Regions from separate parts of the Homo sapiens genome. Here all the other regions are linked to region 2. Evidence: fine-mapped expression QTL. A gene starts in region 2. Each other region holds a variant in brackets. All regions are shown on one strand. Distances are between the middles of the regions.

Region 1 (11,126 bases), 59 kb after region 2:
GCTGCAAAATCATGCCAAAATGTAAAGACCATCGAGACTAGGAAGAAACTGCATCAACTAACGAGCAAAATAACCAGCTAACATCATAATGACAGGATCAAATTCACACATAACAATATTAACTTTAAATGTAAATGGACTAAATGCTCCAATTAAAAGACACAGACTGGCAAGTTGGATAAAGAGTCAAGACCCATCAGTGTGTTGTATTCAGGAAACCCATCTCACATGCAGAGACACACATAGGCTCAAAATAAAAGGATGGAGGAAGATCTACCAAGCAAATGGAAAACAAAAAAAGGCAGGGGTTGCAATCCTAGTCTCTGATAAAACAGACTTTAAACCAACAAAGATCAAAAGAGACAAAGAAGGCCATTACATAATGGTAAAGGGATCAATTCAACAAGAAGAGCTAACTATCCTAAATATATATGCACCCAATACAGGAGCACCCAGATTCATAAAGCTAGTCCTGAGTGACCTACAAAGAGACGTAGACTCCCACACATTAATAATGGGAGACTTTAACACCCCACTGTCAACATTAGACAGATTAACGAGACAGAAAGTCAACAAGGATACCCAGGAATTGAACTCAGCTCTGCACCAAGCGGACCTAATAGACATCTACAGAACTCTCCACCCCAGATCAACAGAATATACATTTTTTTCAGCACCACACCACACCTATTCCAAAATTGACCACATAGTTGGAAGTAAAGCTCTCCTCAGCAAATGTAAAAGAACAGAAATTATAACAAACTATCTCTCAGACCACAGTGCAATCAAACTAGAACTCAGGATTAAGAAACTCACTCAAAACCGCTCAACTACATGGAAATTGAACAACCTGCTCCTGAATGACTACTGGGTACATAACGAAATGAAGGCAGAAATAAAGATGTTCTTTGAAACCAACGAGAACAAAGATACAACATACCAGAATCTCTGGGACACATTCAAAGCAGTGTGTAAAGGGAAATTTATAGCACTAAATGCCCACAAGAGAAAGCAGGAAAGATCCAAAATTGACACCCTAACATCACAATTAAAAGAACTAGAAAAGCAAGAGCAAACACATTCAAAAGCTAGCAGAAGGCAAGAAATAACTAAAATCAGAGCAGAACTGAAGGAAATAGAGACACAAAAAACCCTTCAAAAAATCAATGAATCCAGGAGCTGGTTTTTTGAAAGGATCAACAAAATTGATAGACCACTAGCAAGACTAATAAAGAAAAAAAGAGAGAAGAATCAAATAGACGCAATAAAAAATGATAAAGGGGATATCACCACCGATCCCACAGAAATACAAACTACCATCAGAGAATACTACAAACACCTCTATGCAAATAAACTAGAAAATCTAGAAGAAATGGATAAATTCCTCAACACATACACTCTTCCAAGACTAAACCAGGAAGAAGTTGAATCTCTGAATAGACCAATAACAGGAGCTGAAATTGTGGCAATAATCAATAGCTTACCAACCAAAAAGAGTCCAGGACCAGATGGATTCACAGCCGAATTCTACCAGAGGTACAAGGAGGAACTGGTACCATTCCTTCTGAAACTATTCCAATCAATAGAAAAAGAGGGAATCCTCCCTAACTCATTTTATGAGGCCAGCATCATCCTGATACCAAAGCCTGGCAGAGACACAAACAAAAAAGAGAATTTTAGACCAATAGTCTTGATGAACACTGATGCAAAAATCCTCAATAAAATACTGGCAAACCAAATCCAGCAGCACATCAAAAAGCTTATCCACCATGATCAAGTGGACTTCATCCCTGGGATGCAAGGCTGGTTCAATATAAGCAAATCAATAAATGTAATCCAGCATATAAACAGAACCACAGACAAAAACCACATGATTATCTCAATAGATGCAGAAAAGGCCTTTGACAAAATTCAACAACCCTTCATGCTAAAAACTCTCAATAAATTAGGTATTGATGGGACGTATCTCAAAATAATAAGAGCTATTTATGACAAACCCACAGCCAATATCCTACTGAACGGGCAAAAACTGGAAGCATTCCCTTTGAAAACTGGCACAAGACAGGGATGCCCTCTCTCACCACTCCTATTCAGCATAGTGTTGGAAGTTCTGGCCAGGGCAATTAGGCAAGAGAAGGAAATAAAGGGTATTCAATTAGGAAAAGAGGAAGTCAAATTGTCCCTGTTTGCAGACGACATGATTGTATATCTAGAAAACCCCATTGTCTCAGCCGAAAATCTCCTTAAGCTGATAAGCAACTTCAGCAAAGTCTCAGGATACAAAATCAATGTACAAAAATCACAAGCATTCTTATACATCAATAACAGACAAACAGAGAGCCAAATCATGAGTGAACTCCCATTCACAATTGCTTCAAAGAGAATAAAATACCTAGGAATCCACCTTACAAGGGACGTGAAGGACCTCTTCAAGGAGAACTACAAACCACTGCTCAATGAAATAAAAGAGGATACAAACAAATGGAAGAACATTCCATGCTCATGGGTAGGAAGAATCAATATTGTGAAAATGGCCATCCTGCCCAAGGTAATTTATAGATTCAATGTCATCCCCATCAAGCTACCAATGACTTTCTTCACAGAATTGGAAAAAACTACTTTAAAGTTCATATGGAACCAAAAAAGAGCCCGCATTGCCAAGTCAATCCTAAGCCAAAAGAACAAAGCTGGAGGCATCACACTACCTGACTTCAAACTATACTACAAGGCTACAGTAACCAAGACAGCATGGTACTGGTACCAAAACAGAGATACAGATCAATGGAACAGAACAGAGCCCTCAGAAATAACGCCGCATATCTACAACTATCTGATCTTTGACAAACCTGAGAAAAACAAGCAATGGGGAAAGGATTCCCTATTTAATAAATGGTGCTGGGAAAACTGGCTAGCCATATGTAGAAAGCTGAAACTGGATCCCTTCCTTACACCTTATACAAAAATCAATTCAAGATGGATTAAACACTTAAACGTTAGACCTAAAACCATAAAAACCCTAGAAGAAAACCTAGGCATTACCATTCAGGACATAGGCACGGGCAAGGACTTCATGTCTAAAACACCAAAAGCAATGGCAACAAAAGACAAAATTGACAAATGGGATCTAATTAAACTAAAAAGCTTCTGCACAGCAAAAGAAACTACCATCAGAGTGAACAGGCAACCCACAAAATGGGAGAAAATTTTCGCAACCTACTCATCTGACAAAGGGCTAATATCCAGAATCCACAATGAACTCAAACAAATTTACAAGAAAAAACAAACAACCCCATCAAAAAGTGGGCGAAGGACATGAACAGACACTTCTCAAAAGAAGACATTTAGGCAGCCAAAAAACACATGAAAAAATGCTCACCATCACTGGCCATCAGAGAAATGCAAATCAAAACCACAATGAGATACCATCTCACACCAGTTAGAATGGCAATCATTAAAAAGTCAGGAAACAACAGGTGCTGGAGAGGATGTGGAGAAATAGGAACACTTTTACACTGTTGGTGGGACTGTAAACTAGTTCAACCATTGTGGAAGTCAGTGTGGCGATTCCTCAGGGATCTAGAACTAGAAATACCATTTGACCCAGCCATCCCATTACTGGGTATATACCCAAAGGACTATAAATCATGCTGCTATAAAGACACACACACACGTATGTTTATTGCGGCACTATTCACAATAGCAAAGACTTGGAACCAACCCAAATGTCCAACAATGATAGACTGGATTAAGAAAATGTGGCACATATACACATATGCAGCCATAAAAAATGATGAGTTCATGTCCTTTGTAGGGACACGGATGAAATTGAAAATCATCATTCTCAGTAAACTATCGCAAGAACAAAAAACCAAACACCGCATATTCTCACTCATAGGTGGGAATTGAACAATGAGAACACATGGACACAGGAAGGGGAACATCACACTCTGGGGACTATTGAGGGGTGGGGGGAGGGGGGAGGGATAGCATTGGGAGATATACCTAATGCTAGATGACGAGTTAGTGGGTGCAGCGACCAGCATG[T/G]CACATGTATACATATGTAACTAACCTGCACAGTGTGCACATGTACCCTAAAACTTAAATAATAAAAAAAAAAGACAATACGCGCACAGTTGAACATAGACCCTTATCAGTAGTTCTGTTTTGCCTTTTGTCTTGTTTCCTCAGAAGCATGTGATCTTTGTTCTGCTTTTGCCCTTTGAAGCATGTGATCTTTGTACCTACTCCCTGTTTTACACCCCCTCCCCTTTTGAAACCCTTAATAAAAAACTTGCTGGTTTGAGGCTCAGGTGGGCATCACAGTCCTACTGATATGCGACGTCACCCCCGGCAGCCCAGCTGTTAAAATTCCTCTCTTTGTACTATTTCTCTTTATTTCTCAGTCGGCCGACACTTATGGAAAATAGAAAGAACCTATGTTGAAATATTGGGGGTGGGTTCCCCCAATACTTCTGTATTTTTCAGATTCTCTTTACTGAGCATATATTATTTTTACAATCAGAAAAAAATGAACGGATTTATTTTCAAATGCCCCCCATTGCTCTTCTTTAAATATACAGAATATATTCTTTACATATAAAACACTGCTCCTTCAGAGCCAAGCAAAGGATCACTCATTTTCCCCTTAACTGAGAACAAGGGCTGCACATGAACAAAACGCCTGCTTTAAAATGTACCCATGGCTGGATGCTGTGGCTCACACTTATAATCCCAGCACTTTGAGAGGCTAAGGTGGGTGGATCACTTGAGCTCAGGAGTTTGAGACCAGCCTGGGCAACATAGCGAAACTCTGTCTCTATAACAAATACACCAAAAATTAGCTAGGCATGGTGGTGTGTGCCTGTAGTCTCAGCTATTTGCAAGGCTGACGTGGGAGGATCACTAGAGCCCAGGAGGTCGAGGCTGCAGTGACCTGTGATTACACCACTGCACTCCAGCCTGGGAGACAGAGTGAGACCCTCTCTCTCAAAAAAAAAAAAAAATGTACCCATATTTGTTTTCATCAGGTATGGTAAGATGACAGACACAGAGAAAACTATCTCTGCAAGAAGAGTTTGTTATGCAGTTCCCAGGAGGAGAGGTGTGTCACGCCTTGCAGGGCCACACAGGAAGAACTTGGGTCAGCCAAGAAGCAGAGGGGGTGAGGGAAAAGCACGATCCAGCGCCTTTAATGTAGTTTCCAGCAGAAAGGCAAGGCAAGGCAGGGAAGCAGGCTTAGGATTGGCTAATCTGTATAACTTTGGCAGGCCCTGGCTATAGGGATTGTCCCTAGTTGTCCCATGCCTGGCCCTGGAGTGATTTAGGGCAGGGGGAATATTGGCTTGCTGTGTCAGAGTTTGATAAAGGAGGTGACTGGGGGTGTGGGCTCTGGATTGACTGGTTTGCATACGAAAGGCACGCTCGACCAAGTTGTTTACTCTCTCCCCAAAGTAGCTAGCCCTGGGAGGGGCAGTCTCTCCAGGATAATGCATTATAAAAACAACAACAGCACCTGATTAGTATAATGACATATGTTTCTCTTCACAGCAGTTTGTAATAGCAAAGGTTGGAAACCGTTGAATGGGATTTCCATCACATAAAGAACTGGTTATGTAAATTATGTTACACTGATACAATCCAATGAGCCTCCCTTCAGAGAGAGGCACCCTCATGGCCTAATTACTTCTTTAAGGACCCCATCTCAATACTATCACATTGGCAATAACCTGAATTTTGGAAGGGACACATTCAAACCATAGCAGAGATGTAATCAAATTAAGATGAAATCATTGGGCTGGGCCTAAGCCAATATGACTGGTGTCTTTATAAGAAGAGGGAAATTTGGACATAGACCTATAGACACAGGGAGAAGATGGCCATGTGACAACGAGGCAGAGACTGCAGTGATGCATCTATATGCCAGGCAACGCCAAGAAATTCCTCATGAAGGAACCAACCTTGCCAACACTTTGATTTTAGACTTCTAGCCTCCAGAACCGTAAGGTGATAAATTTCTGTTGTTTAAGCCACCCAGCCTGTGGTACTCTCTTACAGTAGCCCTCCTGACTAATATAGGCCCTTTCTCAACTTTCCCTAGAAGCCCAGGTTTCCTTGCTACAACCCTGGCAGAGGCTTTGGCACATTTCACCCCTCCTCTCTTTGTGATTGGTTTTCACAAAGAAGCTCAAAGTGGAGGAATGATCTCTGGACATGAAGCCTGAGGACCATGCAAGCTCCTTCCTGCCAGAGGCTCTGTTCTGGGTTCTACCTGACCTGGACTCTGAGGGCTCTGAGCAGGGAAGGGTTAGAACCCAGCGTGGATCAAACATTTGAGATGAATCAGCACTGATAGCTGGAATGTGAGCTCCCAAGTGGCTTGAGCTCACTCTGCTCAGGACCCTCTGCAGCTCCTGGGGGAACACTGGCACAGACGGGTGCACAGTTAATATTCAGTTAACACCGGCTGGCTGAATGAAGGGCGAGCTATCTTGAGCCTGACTTTTCTGATCCTTCAATGAGCATGCTAACATCATCCAACCCCTGACCTTGTGGTGAGGATCAAAGACGTTAATGCCCACTAAACGCTTTCTACGATGCCTGGAAACAACTGTTATCAATACTGTGCTATGTTTTAGTAAAGAGGGCTGTTCCCTGAGAGCAAAATTGGCAAGTGGGTCTCACCTCCCATGCTGACTCCAATTGTTGGGTGCGGTTGCATGGATTGATGTCAAAAGCCTCCCAAGGCCCAGTCTGGGCCAGATGCAGGGACTGTCATGATCCCTTAGCAGTGTTTGCTCTGGAAAAGGAGGAACAGGGACCTGGGTGCCATCTCTTCACAGCGCTCCACCCCTAGGGCCTGCTTAAATGGCACAGCCAGCTCCTCAGAGAGACAGGACACACTCTCCTTCTGCCTGCAGTTGTGAGGAAAGAAGGGGCACTGAGGAGGATGGGTCACCCCGGGAGCAGAGCCTGGCTCATATCCTGGTATCCCTGCAGAGGCTGGAGGTGGGGCCAGCACCACCTGAGGACATGTAGCCTTCCCAGGATTCTGGCGTGTGTTCCCATCCCTAGCAGGAAAGAAGTGGAAATTAGCCAATCACCCTGGAAGTGGGCAACCAGTCTTTCTCCCCTTTCCTGTGAATTCACTCAGGACACTGGGGACAAAAGACATCACAGACCCTATCTCCCGTGCTCTTTTACAGTGGCTATTTCATTTAGTACTAGGGGGCTTTTTGCCTGTATTTTATAAATGAGCAAAGAGGACTGGAGGGTCTGAGTGATTTGTCCAGGGTCATCCTCTGTCCTTTGGCTTTTACCTGTGTCACCACAGCCTCCTGGGGAGATGGCTGTGAAAGTGGGCAAAGGGTGAGTCTCAGCTTCACAGGGCTGCAGCATCAGCAGCCTCTCTTGCCTGTCCGTCAGCACTGACAGGGGCAACACCTGGCCTGGCACAAGGCTCTCCGCTTCTTGCCCTCAGGACTTGGAGTCTCTTGGAAGGAGCCTCAGCCCTTCTCTTGGTTCCTGCTTTTGTCTCTAGCCTTCCTAGAGTAGCTCAGATCAGTTCACACCCCTCTACCCACGACTACCCAGGAAAGGACATGATCCCTCATTAAGACCCAGCTATTGCCTAAGGGTCACTGAGGGCCTCAAACCCCAGAGGCTCTGTGGCAGGCACCTGGGAGCCCACTTGGCGGGCCTTGCCCTGGCCCAGACATCACAGACCACTCTCACTGCACTGGCTATTAAGTGCCTGCTCTCTACTAGGGATTCCTAGGGGGTGGCCAAGAGAAGGAAAGACACCCCCACAGGAAGGATGGGCCCAGAAACTGACTTTCCATGGCTCCGACGAGGGGTCCTGAGGCACTCTATCGAAGTGCAAGTCCCTGAATCTGTGTCCCAAGCTCTGAAAATGCAAGAGGTGCTTGGAGCAAACAGGGAGTGTCCTGTCACTGAAGGTCTGCAAGCAGAGGGGTAAGGGACTGTTTGCCTCCTACAGATTTCCCTTCTTTCTCTTCTTCTGGGCCTCTGGGCCAGAGACAGGCATTTTACTTGATGCGATCATCCTCAGCACATGCCTGACACATAGTAGGTGCTCAGTAATTGTTAGCTGTTGTTATTAACCATTATGTGAGTTTAGAGTGCCCGTCCTATTGCAGAGAGGGAGAGAGCAGAGACAAATGGTGATTCTAAGAACCTGTCCCCTTCCCTGGGACTCACTCCAGTGGCTGGTCGCCAGTTGCACCCACACGCGGCTGGCTGCGGGCAGGAGAGCTGGGCTCATTCGTTCTGGCAGCTGTCCCTGCAGATGAGGATCGAGGGTATGTGACTGCCTGAGCAGCTACTTCAATCCTAATGTCCCTTTAATAGCTCTCGTCAAATTGCCACAGCTCTCCCCAGAGATTTTCATGGCTATGGAAAATAAATAGCCATTATCTGACCTCCAGGGGAATGAAGATGTCTGCAGAATTCGGGGAAAAGCAGTTATAAAACTGAGTAGAGCCAGCGCACCCTTTCCCTATTAGCAACCTCTAAGGGAGTCCTAGCTACTGCCTAGGAAATCACAAAATAAATGTATTCACTCCTCAGACTCTCTTTTTTCACCTATTAGTATGTATATGAGTACATTTGGCTTGTGGTAGATCAGGAGAGAGAAAGAAAGAAAAAACAACTACAAAAATATGTAATGATTAGTTAGTCCAGGGGTAGCAGGAAAAGAAGCTGGTCAAGTAAAGGGTTTAATCCTTTTTTATTTTTATTATTTTTTTAGACAGGGTATCACGCTGTTGCCCAGGTTGGAGTACAGTGGTACAACCATAGCTCACTGCAGCCTCAAACTCCTGGGCTCAAGCAATCCTCCTGCCCCAGCCTCCCGAGCAGCTGGGACTACAGTGCACACCACCACACAAGGCTAATTTTCAAATTTTGGGCAGTTTTACTATGTTGCCCAGGCTGGTCCTGAACTCCTGGCCTCAAGGGATCCTCCCATCTCAGCCTCCCATAGTGCTGGGGTTACAGGTATGAGCCACCAAGCCCAGCTGGAAGTTTTTAAAACGTTTCAACATTCAAAGAATGTGAGAATGAAAATGCCCTTCCTTTTCTTACCACCTAATTTGGAAAAGAGAAACTATTTTTTTAATCCCAAAAACATTTGGTATAGCTGGCAAAAAGTGTTCTGTTCTTATATATGAGACAGTTCCTGAAATAGGCCCTAGAGACAGCACTCACGGCCAAGTGGGACCTTGCTCTGGTACTAGCTCAGGTGGCCAAGGGGTTTCAGGAGAGGGTCTGGACTTCCCCACATCCTGCTTTCATCAGCTCTAAGACTAGGTGGTGACATCTGCTTCTCAATAACCTTCACCAGGCTTGCTGTGAAGGTCACCTGAGATAAGAGACGTGAAAGGATGCTGAAGATGCAAAAGCCTAAGCCAGGCAGCCCTGCTTGGCCTGGCCTCCTGGAAAGGGGCAATGCCCCAGCCCAGCACACAACCAGGGCCTCATGATGACAATTCTGCAAAACTGGTCCTTGGCTCGTCCTCCCTTGCCAGGATGAGACTGTGCAAAGCCCCACCCACAGGCAGCTGCTCCAGGTGTCGTTTAAGGGCTCCAAATTCCTTCCAACTAAAAGTATCTTTCCATCCCTGTTGGTATAGTGGTTAGGGGAAAAAAAATTAAAAGAAAATGAACAATGTATTTTCCACGTCAAGATGCCTGAACTTCCCATAACAGCTGTCACTTTAAGAAGCCATAAGAGAAAGGGCCAGGTCTCCATAGGTCATTATTCTTCCCAGGCGGGGTCAACTTCCTCTATTAACACCCATGCACGTATCAGAAGCTACCCATGAAAGGCCAAGGGCCTACAGCAAAGCTCCCATGACTGGAAAGTATTTAAGCATAAGGAACAGAATAGTTTCGAGGGAAGGATAAGAAAGAGAGTCGGGAAGGCTGGGCAGAACACTACTTGGACAACTAAAAAAGCAAGTGGGGACATCTCAAAGAGTGGGCTGGCCACTCCCAGAACCTGTGTAAGCAGGAAACAAAAAGCATTTATTGCTGGTAAATGCTTAACAACTGGCTCTCTGGGATAAAAATGTATATATGTACAGAAATTTATTATAAATTTCATTGATAAAAATGATGTGCAGCACATAATTTATAAATAAAATATACAATGCCATTTATTGTAATTCTAGAAAAGTTTTTTACAGAATGCTTTTGTTGATTTTTGCTGACTCTTCTATCCAACCTGTTTGCAATTCAACCATGATATGACACAACCAGACTACAAATAAATGTTTGTTACTATCTGATTCAACAAAGCAGTCACTCATTTCATGGAATGGATATGGGCTGTTACTCAGTGAAAAGACACATGAGATGGTTCAGTGCTAACTCACCCTTCTGACAGAAAATGCCAGAAAGTTTCCACCCCATTGACAGGCTTGGAGTCTTGAGTACCATCTGGGTGGGTGGAGCTGGCACTGGCACGAAACCTCTCCACTGCTATCCTGACAGAGATGGGGCATGTACTTCCCAGGGCCACTTGCCAACCCAGGGAGGTTTTCCATCTTGCTGGTTTGGTGAGGGAGGCTGCTTTCAGATTTCAAGTGGACACTGCTGGCCTGGATAGGGCTGAGGGGCTCTGCCTCCAAGAGGTGTTCTTCGCTTTGTGGCATTACCTCTCTGAAGTACTTTAGAGTACTTTACAGGCCTGCTTTACTCCTCAGAATCCTGCTGCAGAGCTGAGGGCTGGATAATTTCATGTTCTCTGGCAACTGATGGCCACTGTGGTACCAGAGGAGGGATGTATGTCTGGGCACTTTCAAAAGTATGTTATTAGAAAGTTGCGCATCACGGCCGGGCACGGTGGTTCATGCCTGTAATCCCAGCACTTTGGGAGGCCGAGGTGGGTGGATCACCTGAGGTCAGGAGTTCGAGACCAGCCTGGCCAACACTGGTGAAACCCCGTCTCTACCAAAAATACAAAAATTAGTGGGGCGTGGTGGCGCACGCCTGTAATCCCAGCTACTCCGGAGGCTGAGGAAGAACTGCTTGAACCTGGGGGGTGGAGGTTGCAGTGAGCTGAGATCATGCCACTGCACTCCAGCCCTGGGCAACAAGAATGAAAC
Region 2 (11,126 bases):
GCAACGGAGGCAGAGAGAGCACAAGCGATTACCCAAAGTACTATGCAGAGCCAGGATTCAAACCCAGGCAGTGCAGCCCCAGGGTCAGCCCGGAAGACACCACGCCATGCAGCCCCCTGGCAGATAATTGCTATCACAGCCACATTTGCATGGTGATTCTGAGTTGTTTCCAAATTTTTGCTGGAAGACTATGGATTCCTCGAAGGCATGAATTGTGACTTTCACTTCCGTGGGACCATCCAGGGCCCAGCAGAGCACTGAGTGCACAGGGCCTTCCCAGGGGCTTGCATTCTCGGCTCTGAAGCCCGCCTTCTTTCCTACTCCAGCTGCAGGTGCAAGTGGTGAATCCTACTGAGCCATAATCTTGCTGCTAGAGGCTTATCTAGAGGTGCTTATGCAAGCAGTCTGGCAAAACACCTCTTTAGGGACAAACGTAGAGCTGGAGACTTGGGACGCCTCAGGATGTGTCAGATCACAGCTTTCTGCAGGGCACAAGGCTTCTTGCTGCTTCTCCAGAACATCTCTCCAAATGCCTGTGCAGCCCTGGGTACCTGGGCAGGGTCCAGCTCTACAAAGGATCATGGCTCGAGTCCTTCCGCTCCAATGGGAAAGACCAACCAAGTGAGAGAAAGAGCATGCCGCCCAGAGGGGGAGCTGGTTGCCATTGTCCTCTTGGCTGTCATTTGTTTCTTCAGGGTTTCCAGGCTGGCTTCCAACCGAGGATGTAAGAGGCTGTTACCAAGTCCAGGCAGATCAGCACAAACATATTAACAGGGGTTATCTCAGCGTGGTGTGATGAGGGATGACTTTTTCTCATGGCTTTGCTTCTCTGCCTTTTCTAATTTTCTGCAATGCACATGATTATTTGGGCAATTAAATAATTACAGGGAGGGGAAAGTCACTGTTCTTGCTTTGTCCCTTGCAGGACTCTTTCCCCACACTTATATGGGCTGCTAAGCTCCAATGTGCCCTCTATTGCATGTGGCTTCCACCGAGCTCTTTCTGATCTTCACACCAGCAAACTCCCATCTCTACTCTGTCCTTTCCACACCCTTCACTGTGTACTGATCTGCTCAAATCCTTGCAGATTATAAAATGTTTCACTGGCCCGAGCCTGCTGGTCCCCACAACCCTGATTTCAAAAGAAGTCATCTTTTGTGTCCTTGCAGAGCGTGCCTGGATTGTGTCTCTATCCTTGGTCCCTTACCTGGACTGTAGCCCCAGTTAACTGCTGAATACCAGCAGCTGGGTGTCCTCAGCAACCATGTCCACATGAAGCATCTTAGTCTCACCCACTCCTTCTGTGTCTCTACGAGCAGCATTGAGCTGTAGATGGGAAAGTGTATGGAAATATGATCACTTTTTCCCTAGGGCAAAGAGGGTTGGTGTTCTTTTCTTCAAAATTTATTTTGAATCTGTCTTTTCTGTCTCCCCACTACCCCTCACTCATGCTCCTGAGTCACTGCTGAGCTCCAGGGCTGTACCTTTCTCATTTTGGAATCTCTAGGATCTAGCATAGTACCCAGTGCACAGTATGCCTTCAATGTATGCCTCTTGGTTCAATGAATGAATGCATGAAAAAATGGGCAAATAAGTAAGTTTTAATAATTTGTCACCTTGATTTTTATTTCTTGCAATCCTTCCTGTATTTCTTGCAATCCTTGTTTTATTCCTTGCAATCCTTCCTATATGTCTCTGCCAGTTGAATCTTCCAAAGTGGTGACTCGACCACGTGAATCTCCTCTGGTGACTTTAATGGCTCCCACTGTCTGCGAAGGCCTTTCAAAACCCAGCTGCTTGTTACCTTTCTTTGCAAGGATTTTCTCTCTCACTCCTCAAAGCTCCATTCTGGCTGACTTGGCCTCTCTGTATCCTTTCCTGCCCTTGTTGAGTTGCCCTTTTCTCTGTGTAGCCACTTAGCTGCCTGTGCTGATACTTGCTGCTGGCTAAGCTTGTCATAAGTTCAGTGTGACACCCTTTCCCGTGATGGGCTGATTACAGTAAGGTCCCAATCTAGTGGTGCCTCCCTCTATTGCTGGGTTGGGTAATCTCCCAGTTACTCTGGGTTTGACCATGTGACTTGCTTTGGTCAACAGGAAACAGGATGTTAGCAGAGACTTGAAAAGTGCTTGCTCATTGGGGTTTGCCATCTTTTGCTGCTCTAGGGAATCCAGCAGCTGTCACCATGTAAACAAGCCCAGGCTAGACCAGTTACCCTCATCATCTTAGCTGATAGCCAGCCAGCCACCACAGGCATGAGTCAGGCCATATTGCTGGACCCACAGAATTATGAGCTAAATAAATAGTCTTGGGTTAAGCCACTAAGTTTTAGGCATAGTGTGTTATGTATCTCACAAACATATAAGACTGTGTGTTTGTTGACTGGAGGAAGAGATGCTATAAAGACCACCTTTTAAAACTTCCCAAATACTGCCACTGATGTCCTGATGGAGGTATGAAAACATCCACTAAAATTTGTGGTTTATTCATTTTTCATTATTTTGTTTAAGGAGGTCTATAGTGGAAGAGGGAGATATTTGGGGAAATTTTGTATAGACTAGCTTTCACGATGTTAGGGAATTATTATTGTGTGATAATGGTCTTGCAGTTACACAGAAATTCTTCCTTATTTTTTGGGAAGCACCAAAGTAGGGATAAAATGTCATGATGTGTGCAATACACTTTAAAATGTTTTTGCCAAAATAATTAATGAAGCAAATATGGAAAATAATAATTATTAAATCTAGGTGATGGGTATATTGTAGTTCACTATAGTATTGCACACTTTTCTGTATGTTTAAATTTTTCATTTAAAAAACTTTGAGCTAGACACCAGGCTATGAGCTAGGAGCATAGCAATGACCAAATAGACTCCTACCAACTCAAAGAATGCACATTCTCTGGGAAACATGTTTCCATTAGGAAGCCTCGAATGCAATGTGACTGTGGTCTCCAGGACCTGTGTGATCCTGGCTTTTCCTGTTCCCTCCGCATCATCACTGCAGGTGTGTTTTCCCAAGTTTTAAACATTTACCTTCCCAGTGGCCTTGCGTCTAGAGGAATCCCTGTATAGTGGTACATGAATATAACACATAACAAAAATCATCTCTATGGTGTGTGTTGTTCCTGGGGTTCAATTCAGCAAATTTTCCCTGGGCACCCATGTGTTCTTGGCACTGGAAAAGTACCGGGACTGAAACAGTTGATGGCCCAATCCCTGTCCTCTTAAAACCTAAGGGAGGAGATGGAAAGGGGCACCCAACCCAGACTGAGAGACAGGAATTAGCTGCAAGGGGAACTAGGAAAAGCTTCTTTAAGGATGGAGAGGCCCTAGTGGAATGGGGAGATTCTTCCGGGAGAAGCGATGGATGCACAGTTGGGCATCCCCACAGACGGACTGGAAAGAAAAAAGGCCTGGAGGAATCAATGTGCAATGTATGTGTGTTCCCTGGTTCAAGGGCTGGGAACTTTCTCTAAAGGGCCAGGTAGAAAACATTTTAGGCTTTCTAAGCCAAGGCAAAATTGAGGATATTACATGGGTACTTATACAACAAGAATAAACAATTTACACAATTTTTTGTTGACAGAATTCAAAACTTTATAGACACAGAAATGCAAATTTCCTGTAATTTTCCCATGAGAACTATTCTTCTTTTGTTTTGTTTTGCGACAGGGTTGCGCTGATCCTCCCGCCTCAGTCTCCCTAAGTGCTGAGATGTTGCAGGAAGTCAGGGACCCCGAACAGAGAGATCGGCTGGAGCCGTGGCAGAGGAACATAAATTTTGAAGATTTCATTTTAATATGGACACTTATCAGTTCCCAAATAATACTTTTATAATTTTTTATGCCTGTCTTTGCTTTAATCTCTTAATCCTGTTATCTTCATAAGCTAAGGATGTACGTCACCTCAGGACCACTGTGATAATTGTGTTAACTGTACAGATTGATTGCAAAACATGTGTGTTTGAACAATATGAAATCAGTGCACCTTGAAAAAGAGCAGAATAACAGCAATTTTTAGGGAACAAGGGAAGACAACTATAAGGTCTGACTGCCTGCGGGGTCGGGCAAAGGGAGCCATATTTTTCTTCTTGCAGAGAGCCTATAAATAGACCTGCAAGTAGGAGAGATATTGCTAATTTCTTTTGCTAGCATGGAATATTAATATTAACACCCTGGGAAAGGAATGCATTCCTGGGGGGAGGTCTATAAATGGCCGCTCTGGGAATGTCTATCCTACGCAATGGAGATAAGGACTGAGATACGCCCTGGTCTCCTGCAGTACCCTCAGGCTTACTAGGGTGGTGAAAAACTCCGCCCTGGTAAATTTGTGGTCAGACCAGTTTTCTGCTCTCGAACACTGTTTTCTGTTGTTTAAGATGTTTATCAAGACAATACGTGCACCGCTGAACACAGACCCTTATCAGTAGTTCTCCTTTTTGCCCTTTGAAGCATGTGATCTACTCCCTGTTTTACACCCCCTCACCTTTTGAAACCCTTAATAAAAAACTTGCTGGTTTGAGGCTCAGGTGGGCATCACAGTACTACCGATATGTGATGTCACCCCCGGCGGCCCAGCTGTAAAATTCCTCTCTTTGTACTCTCTCTCTTTATTTCTCAGCCAGCTGACACTTATGGAAAATAGAAAGAACCTACGTTGAAATATTGGGGGCAGGTTCCCCCAATATCTGGTGCCCAACGTGGGATACTGAGATTACAAGCATGAGCCACTGCATCTGGCCTCTTCTTTTGATTTTTTTTTTTCAAACTTTTACAAATGTAGAAACCATTCTTAGCTTTTGGGCATTACCAAACCCGGCAGTGGCAGGCTCGGTTCACCAACGTCATTTGCAGTTCCCCGCTTTATGTTATGGGTTTTGTTTTGTTTTGTTTTTTTTATTGAGACAGAGTTTCACTCTTGTTGCCCAGGCTGTAGTGCAATGGTCTGATCTTGGCTCACTGCAACCTCCACTTCCCAGGTTCAAGCCATTCTCCTGCCTCAGCCTCTCAAGTAGCTGGGATTACAGACACTCACCACCACACCTGGCTAATTTTGTATTTTTAGTAGAGATGAGGTTTCACCATGTTGGCCAGGCTGGTCTCGAAATCCTGACCTCAGGTGATCCACCCACCTTGGCCTCCCAAAGTGCTGGGATTACAGGCTTGAGCTACCACGCCTGGCTGGGTTGGTTCTCAATGGAGTGGTTTGTTTTTGGAGCTGCTCTGCGCAGTGGGGACCAGAATAGGCCTGGGTTCCTAGCCCATTGCTATTCCTTACCAGCTGTGGATTCTAAGGAAAGTCATTTAACCTCGCTGGACCTTAGATTCCTCATCCCTGAAGCCCAAGGGTAAAACAAAACAAAACAAAACAAAACAAACCAACCCATCATGTAAAGCGGGGAACTACAAACGATACAGGTGAAACATGCCTACCACACCACTCACAGGCTATGATGACAAAAACGTGGCTACATCTGGGACCACCCCCCAACCCCCACTTTGTACGTAGGAAATACGGAGTTGAGGATGGAGACCCACAGTATGTCCAGAGTGTCCCCAAAGGCCACAGTGCCCGCCTGGAGCCCTCCAGAGAGCGTGCACTCCCTGGGGTGCCAGCCAGAGACAACTTGCCCTGAGGCTTGGAACTCGATTCTCCGCGTGCCAGAGAAGGGGTGGGACTTCAGAACCCCCAACCCCGCAATCTGGGTCGGGGAGCCTGGCGCACTGCGGGCCGCTCCCTCTAACCCTGGGCTTCCCTGGCGTCCAGGGCCGTCGGGGCCGAGTCCCGATTCGCTCCCACCCCGAAGCCGCGCCAGGACCAACGAGGGCGCAGCCGTATGCCCCAGCCCGCTCCGCGGAGCCCCTCACAGCCACCCCCGCCCCGACCGCGCCCCGCGCGGCTCGAAGCACCTTCCCAAGGGGCTGGTCCTTGCGCCATAGTCGCGCCGGAGCCTCTGGAGGGACATCAAGGATTTCTCGCTCCTACCAGCCACCCCCAAATTTTTGGGAGGTACCCAAGGGTGCGCGCGTGGCTCCTGGCGCGCCGAGGCCCTCCCTCGAGGCCCCGCGAGGTGCACACTGCGGGCCCAGGGCTAGCAGCCGCCCGGCACGTCGCTACCCTGAGGGGCGGGGCGGGAGCTGGCGCTAGAAATGCGCCGGGGCCTGCGGGGCAGTTGCGCAAGTTGTGATCGGGCCGCTATAAGAGGGGCGGGCAGGCATGGAGCCCCGTAGGAATCGCAGCGCCAGCGGTTGCAAGGTAAGGCCCCGGCGCGCTCCTTCCTCCTTCTCTGCTGGTCTTTCTTGGCAGGCCACAGGGCCCCACACAACTCTGGATCCCGGGGAAACTGAGTCAGGAGGGATGCAGGGCGGATGGCTTAGTTCTGGACTATGATAGCTTTGTACCGAGTTCTAGCCAGATAGAAGGTTACCGGGAGCTGGGGAGCGTTGGATTTGCTGCTGGGCTGTGCCGGTGCCCAGAAGGCAGGACCTTGCAGAACCAGCCAGGTCCCTGGGAGACTGTCAGACCCACCAACCTGGTGGCATTCGCAGAGCTGAGATGCATTGGAAATTGCCTTGGGCACATCCCCAAAGATCAGGATGTCCCACCCCAGTCTGAAGGAGATAAAGTTGGGGGTAGGAGAGACGCAGATGCAAGTGATCAGTCTCAGTCCCAGACATTGCCTTGCTCTGCGGGTAGGAATTCAGGATTCATTTTCCAGGGAAGTTCCTGACCTCTGAATGAGAGGGGCTGTGTAAGGCCAATGCCTGGGAGGAAGGCAAGGATGAGTAGAGGTGGGGGGAAACAAGTGTCAGGAAGACTCAAAATCTTCCAGAGAAATTGTGCAGGGTCTTACCAGATCTGTCCTCAAAGCCATGCAAATTGCCTTCTTTGCAATGCATACAATGAGGTGTCTCTGGGGGTCAGAACTGGTTATTAGGGAACTTCTAGCCAGGACTGCTAAATACGCGCTGTTGGCCCACCAGGCTCACCTATAGCCTTCCTTCAGTCTGGGCTTGGTTTGGATTTCACTGTGGGTGCCATCGCCTTTACACTCCTGTTTCTATAGTTTAAAGATAGTGGTGCTTTGGGAAAGTGACTCCTTAAATACAGTTAGGTCCAAGTGAGACAAGTGGCCTGGCTGTCATTTCAGAATAGCAGCTTCCAAGAGGTGATTAATTTCTGTTGGAAGGGTGATCTTTGGGGAGGTGGGTGAAGAGCAGAGACTTGGTGGTACCGTTCCAGGAGCACAGGCTCTCTTCCTTTGCAGTGCAGAATGACCTCTGGCAGCCGGAGTTGTGTTTGTTCTGTAGGATTCTGAGGTGGGCCATGGGCAGCTGGAACTGGGGAATTTTGCCAATCTCTTTCATATTAGGATTGTCTGCAGAACCAGATATGGAGGCTTCTAGCAACGTGAGTGCTCCTGTTCTAATGCCCTTAGAAACAAGAAGGCCACACTGATCATTTCTCTCACTTAGGCAGGGAGACAAGGCAAGAGAGAAACAGTGGATGCTTTTAGGTTCTTTCCCTTCCCAAGCAGTTGTGGACATTGGGCTGAGGGGAACATTTCCACATTGGCTAAAGGAGCGTCCTCCTCATATTTTGTACATTTTATACCCAAAATAACTCTTCTTGGTATTTGGGGAAATATTTTCCTCCCCGTCCATTCCAGGAAATGGCTCCAAGTGCCAAGGACAGAGCCAGGGAAGTTGCAATGAATTCCTGCCCGTCAGCCCCAGGCAGATGCCTTGCACGTCTGAGTGGCCCATGCAGAGCGTGGAGGTGGCCGCCACGGAACCTGGGTCAATGTCCCACCCCCGCTTAGATGCCACCAGGGGCGTGGGAGCCAAGGAGAGAAGAGGGGCTCCAGGAAGGTAGAGTCCTTGTGTCTTGTGCATCTGTGAACAGCACTGGTATGATTTAAAGGAAAATTGAGCCAAATTTTCCGGCAGTCAGTTACCCCATCCCCACCGGGGTAGGAGTCTGGCAGCCGCAGCTCCATTCTGGCCAGTCGGCAGAGAGCCTTGAAATTCTTCTTTGTCCACACAGTTGTCTCAGAGAAACAGAGAGGTTGTTTCTGCTTAAAAACAACACACTTGGTGTCTGGGCCCACAGACTCCTTTGCACTTATTCCACGTGTGACAGCCAATGTGCCTCGTTGCTTAGCAGACAGCATGTTACCGTCTTTCCTGCTCAGTTTGTTAGCTCTATGGAATGGAATTTATAATCAATGCCCATACCAACATTTCACTAATATCATAGGAGATTTAGTCTCCATCTGGGTGTACATTACATTTGCTCTGGGGTGCTCCAGGCTGGGGGGTTGCCAAGGAAGAGAAGAGAAACCGCAGAGAAGACGGGAGGGCAGGGCAGGGGTCTCTGAGAAGGGGAGGGGTCCCAGAGTGCAGGAGCAGGAGCCAGGCTCATGAAAGGGGCCACGGGCGGGAGTATCCAGGGACGGCAGTCAAGATGGAGCACAGCTTAGGAAGCTGAAGGGAATCCTGGCCCACCTGGGTGCTAGAGGGCACATAGGAAGTGCAGGAAGCAGACCAAGGTCCCCAAGAGAGGGAGACCTGGACGCTGAAGCATTTTCTGTCTTTATTAAGACAACTCCGTAAGAATTCCTGCTGGGCCAAAGTGAATTCTAGGATGCGACTTTAAGATGGGAGCAAGCGAACCATTGAGGAGGCAGGTTACCCTAGTTAGCCAATGCAGATCGAGAATGGGAAATCTTTCATTTATTCATGCAACAGATATTTAACGAAGCCCTGCCGTGTTCCAGGCCTGTGATAGATGCTGGAACAGGTACAGAGATACAGGTGTCATTAATTGATCAGGGCAACCTCTCCTTCTGAGTCTTGCTGGAGCTTCAGATGCCCCTCACACAGAGCTCGAGGGAGCCTCAACAATTGATCAGAAGTCAGGCACCATGGCTCACGCATATAATCCCAGCACTTTGGGAGGCCAAGGCAGGTGGATCACTGGAGCCCAGGAGTTCCAGATCAGCTGGGGCAACATGGCAAAACCCCATCTCTATTAAAAAAAAAAAAAGTAACTGGATGTGATGGTACACACCTGTAGTCCCAGCTACTTGGGAGGCTGAGAGGTGGGAGAATTGCTTGAGCCCGGGAAGTCGGGGGTCCAGTGAGCCTTGATCACACCACTGCACTCCAGCCTGAGTGACAGAGCAAGACCCTGACACACACACACACACACACACACACACACACACAGATTAGAGCTGAAACAGGAGTAGAAACCTATCTGTATCTCTGATGAGATCAGATCTTTCTGATGAACAGAAAGAATGTAACCCCTGTACTCACACCCTCTCTGCTGGTTACATATGTTAACACGATTTCTCAAATGAGGCTTTTGGTTGCAAATAAGAGAAAATCACTCACGCTGGCCCTGTGTTTTTCAAATTGTTTATTGTGATCAACATTTGAAAAAAGAGCCGAGACTCTCAAGAGTGCATTACCCACGGTAAGGGTGAATTTTACTTCTTGACACTTATTTCTCTTACATGTATCTATCTGTCTCAAATGAAAAATATATTTAGAAAGTTGAAAGCTATCCAAGTGAGTATAAGAAAAGAGTATCTCACCCTGAAGGCTAAGGACAGGGAGGGCCACCAGGCCTCACGAGGACCCAGGAACCACAAAGAAGGCTAGGAAGGAGCACAGGCGGTGACCATACTCTGGCTCAGTGGCTATGTGGGCTCTGGTCTCTCTCAGCTGTTCCATGCATATGAGGCCAAATGTGGCTACCCTAGAGCTTCTGAGCCCTCAACAGAGATGAACTGGACTCTCTGCAGCCCCACTCTAAATTCCTAAGAGAGAAGTTGATTGACCCAATCAGGGTCAGGAGAAGGAAGGGAGGAGGAAAGGGAGGAGAGAAGAGCCTCTTCGTCTCTTGCCTACCACTGGCCAGGCAATTGTAGCCAAGGGGGCTGGAGTGTAAATGCAAACATAGCCATCAAGGGTTGTGTATGTGTGTGTGTGTGTCTGTGTGTGTGTATGTGTGTCTCTTGGGTAGGTTAGATCTCCCAGGAGGTCCCTACTAAACAGACTTAAGCCCGCAAAATTTTAGCTCTCCAGCCTCACACACTCCACCCCTCTACCATATTGAATCTTCCCAAACCAACTATGGCTTTCCCTAACTCCGGAGCTTGGCCTGGAATGCCCTGCTTCCCCTCTTTCCCCTGGGGAACGCCTGTCCTTCAGGCCTCAGTTCACACACTGCCTCCCTTGCAAAGCTCTCCTCCCATCCCCGGAGTCCCTCTTCCCCTTTGTTCTTTGGGTTCTATGCTTCTTCCCTCATAACTCCCACCAGGTTGTGTTAAAATGAGTTGTTCAAGGTCCTGTCTGTTCCACTAGATTCTGAGCAACTTGGAGAACGAAGATCCAAACTTCGCTGCCTTTATTTCCTCCTTTGTTCTTTTCTCATCCCCAAGTCCCTTCCAACTTGGAGTTATGAAGAAAGGAAGGAAGGAAGGGTGGGAGGGAAGAACAGGAGGGGATCCCACAGGAGAATGTGTATAGGGAGAGGACTCAGACTAGCTAAAGCTTTTCCCTCATAATTAATAGCAAATACCATGTTACCTGAATTTAATTCACAGTAGCATACAAAAGACTCGCTTTGTTCTCCCCATTGATGTCATCAGAGGGCTGTGGGCAGGCCTAATCTTGGCTCAGGAGGCCCTCCAGCCTGGATCTAAAGAGCAGCAGATGGGCCAGGCTCGGTGGCTCATGCCTGTAATCCCAGCATTTTGGGAGGCCGAGGCGGGTGGATCACGAGGTCAGGAGTTTGAGACCAGCCTGGCCAAGATGGTGAAGCCTCGTCTCTACTAAAAATACAAAAATTAGCCAGGTGCGGTGGTGGGCGCCTGTATTTCCAGCTACCCGGGAGGCTGAGGAGGCTGAGGCAGGAGAATCGCTTGAACCCGGGAGGCGGAGGTTGCAGTGAGCCGAGGTCACGCCACTGCACTCTAGCCTGGGCAACAGAGCAAGACTCCGTCAAAAAAAAAATAAAAAAATAAAAAAATAAAAAAAATAAAGAGGAGCACACATCTCTGCCCATCCTAACTCCCACTTTGACATTGAGGTCCCCAGGATGGAGGGTCTGC
Region 3 (11,126 bases), 45 kb after region 2:
GTGTTGGCTGGTCTGAGAAATAAAGAGTACAAAGAGAGGAATTTTACAGCTGGGCTGCTGGGGGTGACATCACATAGCGGTAGGACCGTGATGCCAACCTGAGCTGCAAAACCAGCAAGTTTTTATCAGGGATTTCAAAAGGGGAGGGGGTGTACAAACAGGGAGTAGGTCACATGCTTTAAGGGGTAAAAAGCAGAGCAAAGATCACATGCTTCTGAGGAAACACAGCAAGGACAAAATCAGAACTCCCGATAAGGGTCTACGTTCAGCAGTGCACATATAGTCTTGATAAACATCTTAACAGAAAACAGGGTTCAAGAGCAGAGAACCAGTCTGAACTCAAATTTACCAGGGTTGGGGTTTCCCAATCCTAGTAAGCCTGATGGTACTGCAGGAGACCAGGGCCTTATCTCAACCACTTAAGACAGACACTCCCAGAGCCTTATTTCAGGCTTTATCTCAACCACTTAAGACAGACACTCCCAGAGTGGCCATTTATAGACCTCCCCCAAGGGATGCAATTATTTTCCTAAGGTCTTAATATTAATATTTCTTGCTAGGAAAAGAATTTAGCGATATCTCTCCTACTTGCACACCCATTTATAGGCTCTCTGCAAGAAGAAAAATATGGCTCTTTTTGCCTGACCCTACAGGCAGTCAGACCTTATGGTTGTCTTCCCTTGTTCCCTAAAATCACTGTTATTCTGTTCTTTTTCAAGGTGCACTGATTTCATATTGTTCAAACACACATGTTTTACAATCAATTTGTACAGTAAACACAATCATCACAGTGATCCTGAGGTGATGTACATCCTCAATTTACGAAGATAACAGGATTAAGAGATTAAAATAAAGACAGGAGTAAGAAATTATGAAAGTATTATTTGGAAACTGATAAATGTCCATGAAATCTTCACAATTTATGTCCTCTGCCAAGGCTCCAGCCAGTCCCTCCATTCGGGGTCCCTGAATTCCTGCAACACAGAAGGAATGGTACCAGTTCCTTTTTGTACCTCTGGTAGAATTTGGCTGTGAATCGTCTGGTCCTGGGCTTTTTTTGGTTGATAGGCTATTAATTACTTTTTTTTTTTAAAGATAGGGTCTCACTCTGTTGCCCAGTCTCGGGTATAGTGGCACAGTCTCAGCTCACTGAAACCTCCACCTCCCAGTTCCAGTGATCCTCCCATCTCAGCCTCCCGAGTAGCTGGGATTACAGGCATGTGCCACCACACCCAGCTAATTTTTGTATTTTTAGTAGAGACAGAGTTTTACCATGTTGGTCAGGATAATCTTGAACTCCTGGCCTCAAGTGATCCACCCACCTTGGCCTCCCAAAGTGCTGGGACTACAGGTGTGAGCCACTGAGTCTGGCCTCATATTCAGATTCTTGTGAGAATACTTATACCACAAGAATGGGCAAACACTACAAATCAGGGCTTTCCCCACCTCCTCTAGAGCCTGTTGTTAAGCATCTGCCAGCACACCACTGGGTTGGCCTGCTTGTCAGAGTCTGAGGATGTGGAGTGTGGTCTTTGAGGAGGATGGGAGCAAGAGCTGAACTAGGAGCAGCAGGGTTGCCGGATGCTGCTGCAGGCCCAGCTGAGGGAGGAGACCACAGTTGGACAGGGCCAGGCCTGCTGGCATTAGCAAACGCCATTGGCTGCATTTGTTGAGGACTGGAGTTTTGCCAGGTGCCTGTAAGGGAAGAACAATGGGGAGAGGGAGTTTAGAATGGAAAGAGTTAGTGTTTGGTGCTGGAGCATGGATTTGAGATGGAAAGGGAGAGATGTGGAGAAACAGAGATTGTGGGATGGGCATGGAGGTGTCCATGGGCTGAAAGTCCCAAAGAGCCAGAGGAACAGTGTGTCACAGGTGACTGAGCTAATCTGCTAGAGTGGAGGCTGCAGTCAGGTGCATGGCTGAATGTGCTGTTTCCTGGCAGGTGGGTGGCCCCTCCAGGTGCACAGCATGGCCGCTGGCATGGGCTGAGGCAGATGGAGGAAAGGGCCCTGAGGATGAGGAGTGAAGGAGGTGAGCGGTCAGGAGCTGGATGGGATGTGTCCAGGGAGGCTGATGAATCCTGGGGTTGTGGCAGGACTTGGAGCAGAGAAGGACAAATAGAGAGGGAGAGGGAAGAATAGAGAAGGGAGAGAGGGAGGGAAGAGGAGGGGAGGGAGAGAAGAACCCAAGGGAAGAGAAAGAAAAACATTCATTTTGGGCAGAGGCAGGAAAGGGAAACTAATGTGTCAGGTTTGAGGCTGTTTGGGGGCATCATTTTGTGATAGTAAATGTCTCTATTTTAATCAATAAGGCTAAAGGACTTGATTGAGAATCTAAACCACCCCAGGGACCAGGCTAAATGTCTCCATTTGCAATTCTTAAATTGTCATAAGAGTCTGAAATGATCAGACTCTTCAGAGGTGTCCCAGATCACAGGACAAAGGGTACCCAAGAAAATGAAGAGTGGCTGGGACAGTTCACAGGGCCCAACCCGGATGGCCGCCACACACAGCTCCTGGCCTGAGACTAATCTGAGAGAGGAGGCTTCAGAGGAAAAGGTTTGAGACCAGAAGGCAGGGGGTGGGACCAGATCTCAACTAGAAAAGTCTGATCCCTCCAAGGACCCAAATGGGGACCCAAGAAATTCTCTCAGTCAGCCCAGAGAGTGAAAGAATGATGAAGGTTCTTTCAAGTTGCAGAAATCATGTTTTTCTTACTCAAATGTGGATTTGCTATACCCAGCCCAGTGTCTCATATAGAGCAGGTGCTCAATAAGTATTTGTATAATTAAGCAAAATTGATTTTAAAGAAATAAGAAGAGGGTGTGTGCATGTTTCAACCTATCGGTTGGAGACCTGATATGTTCCCCTTCCAGACAGATTTTAAATTTAAGGGGCATCTGTTCTCAGGATCTCCTGGAGCTGTGTCATGGAAAAAAAAAAAAAAAGAAAGAAAAGTTTAAAATGGAGAAGAAAGAAGGTATCAGTACAGTTAACTCTCTAATAGAGGACTCCCAGCTCTCAGTTGATGGTTTTCTTCTTCTTCTTCTTTTTGTTTTTTAGTTTTGTTTTTTGTTTGAGGGGTGGGGCTTGAGACAGAGAGCCATGACTTTTGAGCAGTCATGATCACAGCTCACTGCAGCCTCCACCTCCCAGGCTCACACAAGCATCCCACCTCAGCCTCCTGAGTAGCTGGGCCTACAGGCATGCACCACCACACTGGCTAATTTTTAAAATTTTTTGTAGAGATGGGGTCTTACTATGTTGCCCAGGGTGGTCTCAAACTCCTGGCTCAAGCGATCCTCCTGACTTGGCCTCCCAAAGTGCTGGGATTACAGGTGTAAGCCACTGCACCTGGCCCAGTGGATAGCATTCTATTCTCTTCGTGGAGAATAGGTGGGAAGAGCCTTCCTTTGCTTCTTAAATGACCCCGACCCTGCTGTGCAGCAAGCGCAGCTGGCCACACATGTAGCCCTCACTCAGCTACTGCAACAGCTCTGAGTGCTGGGCACCGTGCTGAGCACTTTCCAAGTAGCTGGACTTGCTTCAGCCTTACACAGCACTCAGAGAGGAGGTTATTACCATTTCGTGTATAAATCAGCACCTTCAGGTCAGAGAGGATGCAGGGTGACACCACTGGCCAGGGTGGGCCTGAGCCACCAGCCTTCTTTCAGTCCTCAGAGCCTGGGCCCACCACCCATCATTGCCTGCCACAAATGATGGACCGTAGTCACAGCAGTCGCCCTCTTCTCCTCACCTGCTTGGAGCTGGTGCCCACCGATCCCTTTGGGCAAGCACCTGCCCTCTCTGGTCACAAAGCCAAATCACTCTCTTGTCCTGTAGGTAAAGGCACGGCATGAAAAACCCCAAAAATTCCACTTTGAAAAGAACTTCATTTTGCAGCAAAGGGAGGGGTGGAGGGAGGAGAGAAGTATAGAAAATGATTCAGAAACAGCTGAACTTTGAAAAACAGAAGAAAAATCTCTCGGGCGCTGCAGAGAAGTGCAGTTTTAAATGAAGACTTGCCAAGGGACTGAAAAATTGCTTATGAGCAGAGGACATCGGCTCAGGGAGCAGCTGAACTGACAGGAAAGACAGAACTGCTGGGACGACAGTTTGTCCAGCAGCAGCAAAGGAAACTTGAGCACACTCTTAGTCACTGGATTTCAGGAGGCCACTGAATTCTACAACCACTAAATAGCATGACTGCGAAATACGATCGATTCCAAATATGATAGCCACTGAGTCCTATGGGGCTAATACCTGAAACTAAATACTAGAGTAACTAAATATTACAGATATGAAATACTATGTGTCCTAAATACTACAGCCACTTAATTCTACAGCCACGAATACTGTAGCAACTGAACCTACATCTCAGATGTAAAATACTGGTTGTTATGACTCCAGTACAGTGGGCTGAAGGAAAATCAGTAACTTTGTTAAAAGAATAACAGCCTTGGCCGGGCGTGGTGGCTCATGCCTCTAAGGGAGCCTGGGAGGCTGAGGCGGGCGGATCACCTGAGGTCGGGAGTTTGAGACCAGTTTGGCCAACATGGTGAAACCCTGTCTCTACTAAAAATACAAAAATTAGCCCAGCGTGGTGGTGCATGCCTGTAATCCCAGCTATTCAGGAGGCTGAGGCAAGAGGATCACCTGAACCTGGGAAGCGGAGGTTGCAGAGAGCCGAGAACACGCCACTGCACTCCAGCCTGGGTGACAGAGCCAGACTCCATCTCAAAAAAAACACAAAACAGCTTTGGTCCCTGAATTCACCTGTCGGCCCCGCTGTCAGCTGGGGCTGGAGGGAGGAGGAAAGGAGAAATGTATGATGAATTCAATTCAATTCCATGAAGGCCAGAAGCCTCCCTCTCCTTCCTAGGGCCTCCACTGCGTGAGAGCCTCCATCTGGGCCTGGCAGCCATCTCACAGTCCCCCAGTCCCCGCCCAGTCTAGCTTGGGAAGGGGTGTAAAACTCCTTTCCAATGTGGCTGTTTCTTTGACACACAAATCTGATGGCAATGAACTCCCAGAAAGGGCCCCCCAGTCCAGCAAGTGTGGTAGATGCTGGGGGAGGAAAGGAGAAAGGTTTCCAGAAAGCGTGATTGCTGAGCTGAGAATCAGCTGGAAGGAGGAGAGAGAAGGTGGCATTCTGGAGAGAAGCACAAAAAGGAGAAATCGCATATGAGTGGCAAAACCCAGCAGAGCTCTCTGTTGCTGAAGCCTGAAGTTTTAAGTTAGAAGAGCAGGGAAATTTGGTCAAGCAAGCGTGGACCCAATGGGCAGAGTTCTTAGTGCATCAGGCTAAAGTTGAGCCTTTATTCCACAGTTGATGGGCAGCCACCATGAGGCTTTAGGTCAGGGAGAGGGCAACATGCCTGTTAGGGAGGTGACTCTGGCCAAGGCTGGAGTTTGAGATGGCTGGTGTGGAAACCATGGCACCTGTCCAGGGCAAGAAGATTGAGAATCTGGGCAAATGTGCTGGCAACAGGCAGGTCGAGGTGGGGCGGTCTCAGGAATTATTTAGGAGTAACATTTTACACCCTCCCCAAGAATCGGCAGAGCTTGGCCAGTGACATGGCATAGAGGTGAGAGCGGAGAAGTCTCCTACAACCGAAGTGTCTAGTGTGGATGATTGTGGATCATGGTGCCACAAACTGGGACAGATGATGTAGGAAAAAGAGTGAGCCAGAAAGTGTTTCATTTCCCTGTATTCCTGCATTAAAAACCTCCCTAAAATGTGGCCTTAAATAACAATTCATTATTTCTCATGATTGTGTGGGCCAAGAAATGGTCAGGGCTCAGCAGGGCAGTTTTGCTCCACACAACTTTACCTGGGGCCATTCTCTTGACTGTGCCCAGCCAATGGCTGGTCTGGAAGGTCCATGTGTCCCTCACATGCTCAGCACCTTGGTGCTCCTCCACATGGCCCCTCTCTCTCCAAGTGGCTAGCTTGGGCTTCCTCACAGCATGGTGGTCTTAGGATAGCTGAACTTCTTCAATGGGGTGGCCTCCCAGAGGGTGTATTCTAAGAATCAAAGGCAGATGCTCTATATCTTCCAAGTCCCAATCTCAGAAATGACACAAAGTCACTCTGCCACGTTCTATTGGGTACAAGAAGTCACTGATCCAGTCCATATTTAAGAAAAGGAGAAACAGCCTCCAACTCTGAATGGAAGGAGTAGCAAAGAACGTGTGGCCATTTTAACCCACCACAGTGGGTGCAGTGAATGCTGTGAGGTGCCACCCAGGTGCCCCTTCAGAATGGAGGCATTTGGTTCCCTGAGGGCGTATTGGCTGCTCATACCTGGGTCCCTCTCCAGGAACTGTCCTCCCCTAAAGGCACATCCCCTCTCCAAGGAGAGTCGCCATCCAGTGACTGGTGGGTGCGGGCATACCAGAGCCCAGCTCCCAGAGTCTCTCTGGAGCAATTCTGAAGGATCATCTCAGCTCTAGAGCTGTGGGACCAGCTGATGGCTCCGTGTGTCGAAGTTCAAGTTCTCCCTCTGCCTGGTCTGCTTTCCTCACTCCCTTCGGATGCTTCTCCCGAGTCCTCCCCAGTCATCTCCTGCACTTAAATGCACCTCACAGCATTTGCCAAGAACCTGCCCAAGGTTGAGGAACCTGACCTCCACCAAGAGGCTGAGCTCTGACTGGGAGTGTAGTGGTTGGACAGCCTCTGCAACAGTCAGAGCCTCCACAGTGGGCAGGGTTTGGGAGGCTGGAGGCTGGAGTCTGAGGGAGACATCTGGGCCTGTGATGGAGTCAGCAGAGTAAGGGGATCGGGAGGCTGAGGTGAAAACCACGTGAACATTTACTCAAACAATCTGCTAATGGTTTTTTTTTTGTTTGGTTGGTTTTTTTGTTTGTTTGTTTTTTGAGACAGAGTCTCACTTTGTTGCCCAGGCTGGAGTGCAGTGGTGTCATCTCGGCTCACTGCAGCCTCCGCCTCCTGGGTTCAAGCAATTCTCCTGCCTCAGCCTTCCAAGTAGCTGGGGTTACAGGTTCCCACTGCCACACCCAGCTTATTTTTGTATTTTTAGTAGAGACAGGGTTTCACCATGTTGGCCAGGCTGGTCTCAAACTCCTGACCTCAAGTGATCCTCCCACTTTGGCCTCCCAAAGTGCTGGGAATACAGATGTGAGCCATGCACCCAGCCGAAATCCGCTAATGTTAATCATCCGATTGTTTCCAATTTTCATTATTATAAACGTTAATACATGGCCTGATACCTAAATTCTTTCATTCACAGTTCTGATCATTTTTTTTTCTCATATTTTTAGAGACTATGTCTCACTAGGTCTTGCTAGGCTGGTCTTGAGCTCCTAGACTCAAGCAATCCTCCTGCCTAAGCCTCCTGAGTAGCTGGAATTACAGGCGTGCACCACTGCACCTGGCTCTGATCCCTTTTTTTAGTGAAAGATTTTGAGTGAAATGATTCATCGCTTGAGTGAAATAATGAATTAAAGAATATGAGCATTCTTGAGGCTACCAGGATTTTCCAAGGCCCCTTTGCACACCGCATTTACACGGCATTCTCCTTCAGCCAAATTCCCTAAATTCACAAGAGGCCTGATTTAGGGAAGGTCACTGATTCAGCTGGAGAGTTAATTATTCATTTGAATTGGTTTATGCAAAAAGCTCCAGAGAGCCCACAAGAATAAATTGAAAAGCTATTAGAACAGGCAAATTTAATAAAGTGGCTGGATGCAAAATTCAATAGCTTCCTCATCAACTAGCAATAACCAATTAGAAGATATAATGGGGGTGGGTGGATGGGGAAGCAGAGATAGCAACAATAACAAAAACACCTCAAATCTACTGCACCAGTGTTAGAAATGGAAACTATCTCTTATAACTTTGTAGACTTTTTTAGAAACCCATGAAATAATTAATTCAATGGGAAATCATGCCATGTTCCCAAATGGAAAGGCTGCATGTGCTGCAGAGTTGACCTGTAGGTTGAACACAATCCAATTAAAAGTCCAAGGAGATTTGC[T/C]GCTTTGTTGTTGTTAAGCATGCCACAGTTCTTCTAAAGTTTACTCAGAAGAAATACATAGGCAAGAATAGCTGAGAAAAAAAATGTGAAGATGAATAAGGAGGAATTTTGCCTTATCAGATATTAAATATACAATAAAGCTAAAATAATGAAAATAGTGTAGCCATGATGCAAGAATTAGCAGACACATCAGTGGGGTCATATCTACAAGCAGGAGTTCGCGTACAAGAGGCTTGTGTCTAATGAAGATGGAATTGCACTGCTGTGAGGTGAGGTGGCATTATTTGGTAAGTGGTACAGAGAAAATTGGTTAACGATTTGGGGGGACATACTCTCACATCTCACATTCAAATAAGTACATTCTGTGTGGATGAGTTAAACGCTGTTATGGGTTGAACTATGTCCATAAAAAAAGATATGTTGAAGTCCTAACCCCCAGCACCTCAGAATGTGACCTTATTTGGAGACGGTTTCATTCCAGATGCAATTAATTATGCTAAATTGCAGTCATAGGAGAGTAGGGTAGGCCCCTAATCCAATATGACTTACATGCTTATAAGAAGATGGCATGTGGAGACAGAGGCAGGGACTGGAGCTCCATGCTGCTACCAGCCAAGGAAGTCTGGGGCTACCAGAAGCTGGAAGTGGCAAGGAAGCATCTTTCCTCTATGGGTTTCAGAGGGAGCGGCCCTGCTGACACTTTATCTCAGACTTCCAGCCTCCGGAGCTGTGAGACCATACATTTCTGTTGTTCTAAGCCACCCAATTTGTGGCACTTTGCTACAGCAGCCCTAGGACACTAATACAAATGTCTAATTATAGAACCATGTTAAAAATTCAGAGGAAATATAGGTAAAAAAATGTATATACTGTACTTGCAAAAGCAGTAAGAAACTTTGGGAATGATAGCAAGAGGAGTCTAAAAATTTTAAAAAATAAAACATTTTTTAAAAGCAGTAAGAACTTTATAAGCATAAAAGCAATGGAAAAAATCGAAAAGGAAAATCAAACTTTATATAAAAAATAGGTCTACCAAAATTAAAAGGTAAACAGCAAACTTGGAAATTGAACTGCTACAAAATGACAATATGGCCACTATTCTTAATGAGTAAGGAGAACCTTAAAACCCCACTGGAAAATTGGGTGAAGAAGACCAGGCATGGTGGCTTATGCCTGTAATCCCAGCACTCTGGGAGGCCAAGGTGGGTGGATCACCTGAGGTCGGGAGTTTGAGACCAGCCTGACCAACATGGAGAAACCCCGTCTCTACTAAAAATACAAAATTAGCCAGGCATGGTGGCACATGCCTGTAATACCAGCTACTCGGGAGGCTGAGGCAAGAGAATCGCTTGAACCTAGGAGGCAGAGATTGCAGTGAGCCGAGATCACACCATTGTACTCCAGCCTGGACAACAAAAGCAAAACTCTGTCTCAAAAAAACAAAAGAAAGAAAATTGGGTGAAGAAAATGGACAATTCACACAGAATACACATGACTATAAACATACAAAAGATCCAACCTTGCTAGTAATCAAATCCATATAAATAGAAGACACTTTTTGCCTTTCAAATTAACTTAATCATGAGAGGGTACAGTAAAACTTGTATCCTTGTATGTCCCTCCATAATACCATACATGGTATAAATTTCTACAATTTTTAGAATATAATCTGGTGCTATGTATAAAGAGGCTTTTTAAAATTCATACCCTTTGACTCAGTAATTCTCCTTCTAAAAATCTATCTTAAGGAATTAATTAGAAAGGCCAATGTTTATCTACAAAGATGTTCATTGCTGGACAGTGGCTCATGCCTGTAATCCCAGCACTTTGGGAGGCTAAGGCAGGAGGATCACTTGAGCCCAGGAGTTTGAGACCAGTCTGGGCAACAAAGGGAGACCCCCATCTCTACAAAAAATAAAAAAATTAGCTGGGCATGGTAGCACACACTTGTGGTCCTAGCTTCTCGAGAGGCTGAGGTTGGAGAATCGCTTGAGCCCTGGAGTTCAAGGCTGGCAATGAACTATGATTACACCACTGCACTACAGCCTGGGTGACAGAGCAAGACTCTATCTCAAAAAACAACAAAAAGATGTTCATCACTGCATTATTTATAGTAATGAAAAATTAGAAACTGCCTCAATGTCTAAAGGGAATCATGGCACATCCATGTGATGTTAAATTATGCAACCATTAAAGGTGATGATTTCATTATATTTAATGACATGGAAAATACAATTAAATGACATGGAACATTACACATATTTAACATTACATGGAACATCCATATAATGTTAAATTATGCAACCATTAAAGGTGGTGATTTCATTGTATTTAATGATAAGGAAAATACAATTAAAATGTAAAATTCAAGAGCTCAGGATTACATGCATAGTATTATTAGCCAAATTTTATAAAACACATATCTACAGGGGAAAAAAAGTGTTAAAATCAGCCAAAATACTTATTGTTTCCTCTGGATACCATGATTTATAGATGGTTTTAATTGTTTTCATTCCAGTAAAATACATGTAACAAAATTTACCACTTTAACAATTTTTTAGTGTATAATTCAGTAGCATTAAGTACTTTCACAATATTAGGTAACCTATCACTACTATAATTTTCCAGAATTTTTTCTTTCATCTTCCAGGACTTTTTCATCTTCCCACACTGAAGCTCTGTACCCATTAAACAATACCTCCCTCCCCATTGCCCCTTACTCTCAGCCTCTGGTAACGTCTGTGGCACTTTCTGTCGCTCACAAATCTGCCTAGTCTAGGTACTTCATACAAGTGGAATCATATTATATTTTCCCTTTGTCTGGGTTATTTCACTTAGCACAGTGTTTTTAAGGTTCACCCATGTTGCAGCACGTATCAGAATTTCATTCTTTTCTATGGCTGAATAATGTTCCATTGTACATAACTTAAATATCCCATTTTGTTCATCCATTCATCTGTTGATGGACATTTGGGCTGTTTCCCCTTTTTAACTACTGTGAATAATGCTATGAACAGTGATGTACACATTTATGTTCACATCCCTGCTTCCAGTTCTTCTGAGTATATACTGAAGAGTGAAATTCCTGGATCACATGATATTTCTATTTTTAATTTTTGGAGGAATA

Alleles and levels. Alleles are on the strand shown, and positions count from the first base shown. SD is a standard deviation of normalised expression in the study named. Not every link is listed here.
With allele G in place of T in region 1, the expression in monocytes after LPS of the gene that starts at base 6,228 in region 2 is higher (moderate effect, 0.46 SD a copy in Fairfax 2014).

The links. PIP is the estimated chance that this variant, and not a neighbour inherited with it, causes the effect.
Region 1: its variant is the best candidate, but not a certain one, in a credible set for the expression of LEP in monocytes after LPS (Fairfax 2014, PIP 0.71).
Region 3: its variant is the best candidate, but not a certain one, in a credible set for the expression of LEP in whole blood (INTERVAL, PIP 0.77).

Annotation. Positions count from the first base shown.
Region 1 is chr7:128,294,027-128,305,152 of GRCh38, forward strand. RBM28 (RNA binding motif protein 28) reads right to left here. Exons shown (of 19, transcript NM_018077.3): 19 at 3,659-11,126. Among named protein-coding and RNA genes, the nearest start is that of RBM28, 44 kb to the right of the region's middle. RefSeq lists an enhancer at 5,190-5,484. The variant T/G (reference allele first, on the strand shown) is at 4,045.
Region 2 is chr7:128,235,051-128,246,176 of GRCh38, forward strand. LEP (leptin) reads left to right here and starts at 6,228. Exons shown (of 3, transcript NM_000230.3): 1 at 6,228-6,256. RefSeq lists enhancers at 2,045-2,184, 4,277-4,682, 4,282-4,341, 4,319-4,354, promoters at 3,306-6,256, 6,010-6,256 and cis regulatory regions at 4,277-4,682, 6,174-6,182.
Region 3 is chr7:128,280,179-128,291,304 of GRCh38, forward strand. No RefSeq gene overlaps it. Among named protein-coding and RNA genes, the nearest start is that of LEP, 44 kb to the left of the region's middle. The variant T/C (reference allele first, on the strand shown) is at 8,000.